Linked DNA regions of Homo sapiens: region 1 is linked to region 2. Evidence: fine-mapped expression QTL. Tissue or cell type: whole blood. Region 2 holds a variant in brackets; the other region holds the start of a gene. All regions are shown on one strand. Distances are between the middles of the regions.

Region 1 (2,908 bases), 28 kb after region 2:
TATTCTGATAAAGAAGCTTTTTAGTGATTGGAATTAGAGAAAACAGGATTAATTTCTCCTTTTGGTGCAGTGACAGGAGAGTCTTGGCAAATGTTATCTTTTGGGGTCAGCTCTAGCTCTTGGGCTGGAGGGTGAGGAATCAGTTAAAGAAAAGGGTCCCTGGCGGGGTGTGGTGGCTCACGCCTGTAATCCCAACACTTTGGGAGGCCGAGGCGGGCGGATCACCTGAGGTCGGGAGTTCGAGACCAGCCTGACCAACACGGAGAAACTCTGTCTCTACTAAAAATACAAAATTAGCCAGGCGTGGTGGCACATGCCTGTAATTCCAGCTATTTGGGAGGCTGAGGCAGGAGAATTGCTTGAACCCAGGAGGCGGAGGTTGCGGTGAGGTGAGATTGTGCCATTGCACTCCAGCCTAGGCAACAAGAGTGAAGCTCGGTTAAAAAAAAAGAAAAGAAAGAAAGAGAAGAAAAGAAAAGAAAGAAAGAAAGAGAAAGAAAGAAGAGAGAGAAAGAGAGAAAAGAAAGAAAAGAAGGAGGAAGGAAAGGAAAGGGAAAGGGAAAGGAAAGGAAAGGAAAGGAAAGGAAAGGGTCTCTGACCTCAGACAGGTTACAGTCTCACTAGGGAGACAAGGGTCAGGATTACGTGGGCGTCATTTTCCTCCTTACAGGCAGGCGGTGCCTCTCCCTTCAAAAGCAAGGGACCTTTATGCATGATTCCACATCTGCATTCCGATAGGAAAGGGAAACAGCAGAAACACAATACCCATCTGAGAGCTACGCTTAGAGAGGACTCTGGGCTTTTATTTATTTTTTTACTTCAGTCTTGTGACCAGTAATTTTAAGGGAAAGCCAATAATAATGTTTTTAAAAAGCCTCACGCCACCCCTGGCGGCATCTCCTCGGTGTACTTTGCTGTTCAGATCCGCCTGCCTTCTGTGCCAGCCTAACAGCGCCCGGCCTCAGCCCCCATTGTCCCTGGAGCTGGCGAGGTGTCCGGTTGCGGAGCCGGCGGCGTCTCTGGAAATGCATCCTGCATCCCCGCATGGATAACAGCTGCAGCTATGTCAGAATTGCACAAAGAGGGGAGAGTGTCATTGTGTGCCTTTTGACACATACATTAAGACCAAAAAGGAAAAAAAGCGTCTATCTGTGCTGCCACCGACCAGACTCATGGAGGCCAGATTTTCTCCAATTAACCAGATCTTGCCCTGGTGCAGACAAGACTTAGTGAGTTCGGAGGAGGGGTGGGGAGAGGGAATTGGCTGGGGTCCCTACCCTGGGTGGAAGGAGGAGGGAGGGGTTCCCCCTCCCCCTTCCCCTACCCTCCCCTCCGGGTTTAGGGAGGGGATTAGAGGTGGGGAGGAGCTGGGGGGGCGTTTGGCCTGTGCCCCAACCTTGTGAGTGAGGTGGGGGTTGGAGGTGTGCGGGGGGCGGGGCGTGTGCCGGGGTCGCCGCGGGATGGGGGGTTGGGGATGTGCGGGGAGAGGCGCGTGTCCCGAGATCGCGGGGGGTGGGGTTGGAGGTGTGCGGGTGGAGGGGCGCGCCCTGGAGTTGGGGGCGGGCGAGGCGTTTGCGGGCGCGGGGGGCGGGTTTGGAGGTGTGCGGGGGAGGGGCGTGCCCTGGAGTTGGGGGCGGGGCGAGGCGGGCTCCTCCCCGGCGGGCGGGCCCGGGCGCGGCGCGGTGGCCTCGCGGTGCCTAGGCTGGGGCTGCCGGACCGTGAGGCTGTGAGTCGCGCGGACGGAGCCGGACAAAAGCGGGCGGCGGCGGCAGGATGAACAGCATCAAGAACGTGCCGGCGCGGGTGCTGAGCCGCAGGCCGGGCCACAGCCTGGAGGCCGAGCGCGAGCAGTTCGACAAGACCCAGGCGAGCGGGCGGCGGGCGGCGGGCGGCGGGCGGCGGCGGGCGGGCGGGCAAGCGGCGTCCCTGACCCCTCACGCGCGAACGGCTGGGGCCCGGGAGGCGCCGGCCAGGGGCGGGGGACGGCGCGGGGGCAGGGCCTGTGTCCGCCCGGGCTCTCCGAGAGCTCCGCTGCCGCCCCCCGCCGGCCTCCGCGGCCCGAGCCGACCGGCGCGCAGGTGAACCGGAAGCCGCGCTCCCCGCTCCCGCCGGGCGCTCGGGCCCAGAGGCGCCGGGGCTGAGGGGGCCGGGGTCAGGGTGTGCGCGGGCCGGGAGCGCCGGAGCTGAGGCGGCGGGGGACGGAGATGGGGCCGGGGTTGGGTGTGCGCGAGCCCAGCGCGCCGGGGGTCGAGGGGGCTGGGGATCCAGGTGCTCCCGGGGCCGGCGCGGCCCGACTGGGGTCCCCGACCTTCCGTGCCGCTCCTTGCCGGCTCCTGCCCCCGTCTCCTACCCCCTGAAACCGATGCCCCCACGGGCAATTTCCTTAAAGGAAATTCCTTAAACTCCCAGCTTCCTTCTCTCGTGAGCGGTTTCCCAGGGCTGCACAGTCTCCTATTATTTGCTGGGTGAAAAGCTTCTCGTATGTCGCCAGACTTGTTTGCCCGAGCGCTGCCCACGTATAAATAGGTGCACACCCCCTCATTAAATACCGGCGCCCGACAGACAGAAACTTCCTGGGGCTCCCTTCCTGCGCCTCCCACGCTTGTAACTCTTCCAGATGATGCCTATCCTGGGAAGGCGTTAGAAATGAAATAAGGGCGCGGGTGTGCGTTTTGTACTTGTGTTTGTGCCGGGGACCCACGATGCAGACGTTGCTGCGTTTCTGGTTTCCTGTTGCTTTTTATTTTACAAACTCTTGAAGTGCTCTCAGGCTTGGGGGATGGGCGGTGGAGGGGGGCATACTTGTTTATTTGCCAAAATAAGTCAACCAAGACTGAAATGGCTGAAAAATTTTACTCTAGAGATAAAGGAAGCCAGAGGACCCCTCCCACTCCTGTCTAAAGCAGGT
Region 2 (2,908 bases):
TCAGCCTTCCGAGTAGCTGGGACTACAGGCACCCGCCACCACACCTAGCTAATTTTTTGTATTTTTAGTAGAGACGGGGTTTCACCGTGTTAGGATGGTCTCGATTTCCTGACCTCCTGATCCGCCTGCCTCTGCCTCCCAAAGTGCTGGGATTACAGGTGTGAGCCACCGCTCCCGGCCACATCCAGCTAATTTTTGTGTTTTTAGTAGAGATGGGGTTTCACCATGTTGGCCAGGACAGTCCTGATCTCCTGACCTCGTGATCCACCCAGATCAGCCTCCCAAAGTGCTGGGATTATAGGCATGAGCTACCATGCCCAGCCTTATTTTAATTCTTATTTGCAAAAGGTATGCATTAACTTATAATATTCTATTCCAATCTATAATGTTCTACTCAAACTTGACCTGCTTCAATAACAAAAACACTTATTTGTCCTTTTAAGATACTTTTGAGTATAAGAGTGATCTATGTATGATATTGTTTTAAGATATTTGTTTTTGTTGGGTTTTCTTATTCTTAGTGAGCTAATTGCCATCCAAGATTCCCACTCTTTGGGTTCTTCAAAATCTGCCTTGAGAGAAGATGAGACGGAGTCCTCTTCCAATAAAAAGAACTCACCTACGAGTTTGTTAATCTACAAAGATGCACCAGCATTCAATGAAAAGGTTCGTATTTTGCTTAGACATCCCCAGCTTACTCAAGCCAGGCCTCTCACCAGCTTTTAATGCTTCTCTAGCAACCACTGTTAGCTTGCTTATTTTGGCTATTCCTCCGTTTTTTTTTTTTTTTTTTTAATTCTAGGATTTTAAGATGCTTTTAAGGCAATCCTTTTATTTATTTTATTATTTTGTGTTTTGTTCTGTTTCTTTGAGACAGGATACTCAGTCACCCAGGCTGTAGTGCAGTGGTGCAATCGTGGCTCACTGCAGCCTCAACCTACTGGGCTCAAGTGATCCTCCTGCCTCAGCCTTCCAAGTAGCTGCAACTACAGGCACATGCCACCACGCCCAGCTAATTTTCTCATTTTTTTGTAGAGACAGGGTCTCAATTTGTTGCCCAGTCTGGTCTTGAACACTTGGGCTCAAGTGATCTTCTTGCCTTGGCCTCCCAAAGTGTGCTGGGATTATAAGTGTGAATCACCGTGCTGGGACTATTTTTTTCTTTCGAGAAAAATTGTATTTTTTTTTTTTTTGGCAACTTGATATATGTTGGTTGTAAAAAAAAAAAGAAAGAAAAAAGAAAAAGAAAAACAAACCACAAGAACAATACAGAAATATAGATATCACCTAACTGCTTGGTCTCAGCTGCCCCTTCCTCCAAATACACAACCCCTGGCAGTGTCTAGAGAGACCCAGGTGACACGTTGGTGGGCTTGCTTACAGATTTCTCTATCTGCAGAGACATGCATACAGACTAATGTGTGGTAAATGGGATTTCATTATATGAGAAAATGTGTGGCAAGGTACAGTGCCTCGTGCCTGTAATTCCAACACTCTTGGGGGCCAAAGTGGAAGAATTGCTTAAGCCCAGGAATTCAGGATCAGCATGGGCAACATAGCAAGAC[C/T]CTGCCTCTATTTTTTGTTTCAATAAAATTTTAAAAACATAAAAGAGGAAAACATCGCCAGGCGCAGTGGCTCACGCCTGTAATCCCAGCACTTTGGAAGGCCGGGGTGGGCAGATAACCTGAGGTCAGGAGTTCGAGACCAGCCTGACCAACATGGTGAAACCCCATCTCTACTAAAATAAAAAAATTAGCCAGGTGTAGTGGCGGGTGCCTGTAATCTCAGCTACTTGGGAGGCTGAGGCGGGAGAATCGCTTGAAACCAGGAGGCAGAGTTTGCAGTGAGCCGAGATTGCACCATTGCACTCCAGCCTGGCAACAGAGTGAGACTCTGTCTCAAAAAAAAAAAAAAAAAAAGGTAAACATCTGACATCTATGATTTACCAAGATACCAGGGTGGCAAATTGAAATCTTCATCCCACTAATGGGATTACAGGCACAAGGCACTGTACCTGGCCAGACATTTTCTTGTATAATAAAATCCCATTTACCACACATTAGTCTGTATGTGACAGACTAATAGTGACACATTCATTACACCCAAACCCCTTTGGAATTCTTCCTCTGCCCTGTGCGTCCCTCCCTATTCCCAGACAATCACTCACTAATCTGTCTTCTGTAACCCAGATTAGTTTGCCTTTTCTAGAATTTTATATAAATGCATTCAAACTTTTGTGTCCCTCTTGTTTCTTTCACTCAGTGTAATTATTTTGAGATTAACTTATGTGACTGTGTATATAAATAATTCCTTTTTGTTGCTGACAAGTATCCTATTGTGTGGATATATTAGGTTGATGCAAAAGTAAGTATGGTCTTTGTCATTAAAAGTAATGGTAGGCCATTAAAAGTAATCCCAACACTTTGGGAGGCCGAGGCAGGCGGATCACTTGAGGTCAGGCGTTCGAGACCAGCCTGGCCAGCATGGTGAAATCCCCTGTCTACTAAAAATACAAAAATGAGCCTGGTGTGCTGGTGTGTGCCTGTAATCCCAGCTACTCAGGATGCTGAGGCAGAAGAATTGCTTAAACCCGGGAGGCAGGGGTTGCAGTGAACCAAGATCGTGCTACTGGACTCCAGCCTGGGTGACAGAGCGAGATTCAATCTCAAAAAAAAAGTAATGGCAAAAACCGCAATTACTTTTGCACCAACCTATTACCACAGTGATTTAGCCATTCATTTGTCAGTGGACATTTGGGTTGTTTCTGGTGTGCTAGATAATACAAATAAAGCTGCTTGCATATTCATGTATCATAAGTCTTTGTATAGACACATTTTTTTTTCGTTTATCTAGGAATGGAATGCTAGCTAGCTCATATGGTAGGTGTATATTTAACCTTTTTTTTTCT

What was found. PIP is the estimated chance that this variant, and not a neighbour inherited with it, causes the effect.
Region 1: HIP1R starts here. The variant in region 2 is the best candidate, but not a certain one, in a credible set for the expression of HIP1R in whole blood (INTERVAL, PIP 0.58).

What each region holds. Positions count from the first base shown.
Region 1 is chr12:122,833,778-122,836,685 of GRCh38, forward strand. HIP1R (huntingtin interacting protein 1 related) reads left to right here and starts at 1,680. Exons shown (of 32, transcript NM_003959.3): 1 at 1,680-1,866. The coding sequence starts at 1,774. It overlaps LOC124903040 (a long non-coding RNA gene), which reads right to left and starts at 1,456. Exons shown (of 2, transcript XR_007063501.1): 1 at 1,397-1,456; 2 at 778-1,061. RefSeq lists an enhancer at 1,282-1,331 and silencers at 1,582-1,821, 1,992-2,191.
Region 2 is chr12:122,805,630-122,808,537 of GRCh38, forward strand. It overlaps CCDC62 (coiled-coil domain containing 62), which reads left to right. Exons shown (of 13, transcript NM_201435.5): 10 at 522-666. Among named protein-coding and RNA genes, the nearest start is that of HIP1R, 28 kb to the right of the region's middle. The variant C/T (reference allele first, on the strand shown) is at 1,566.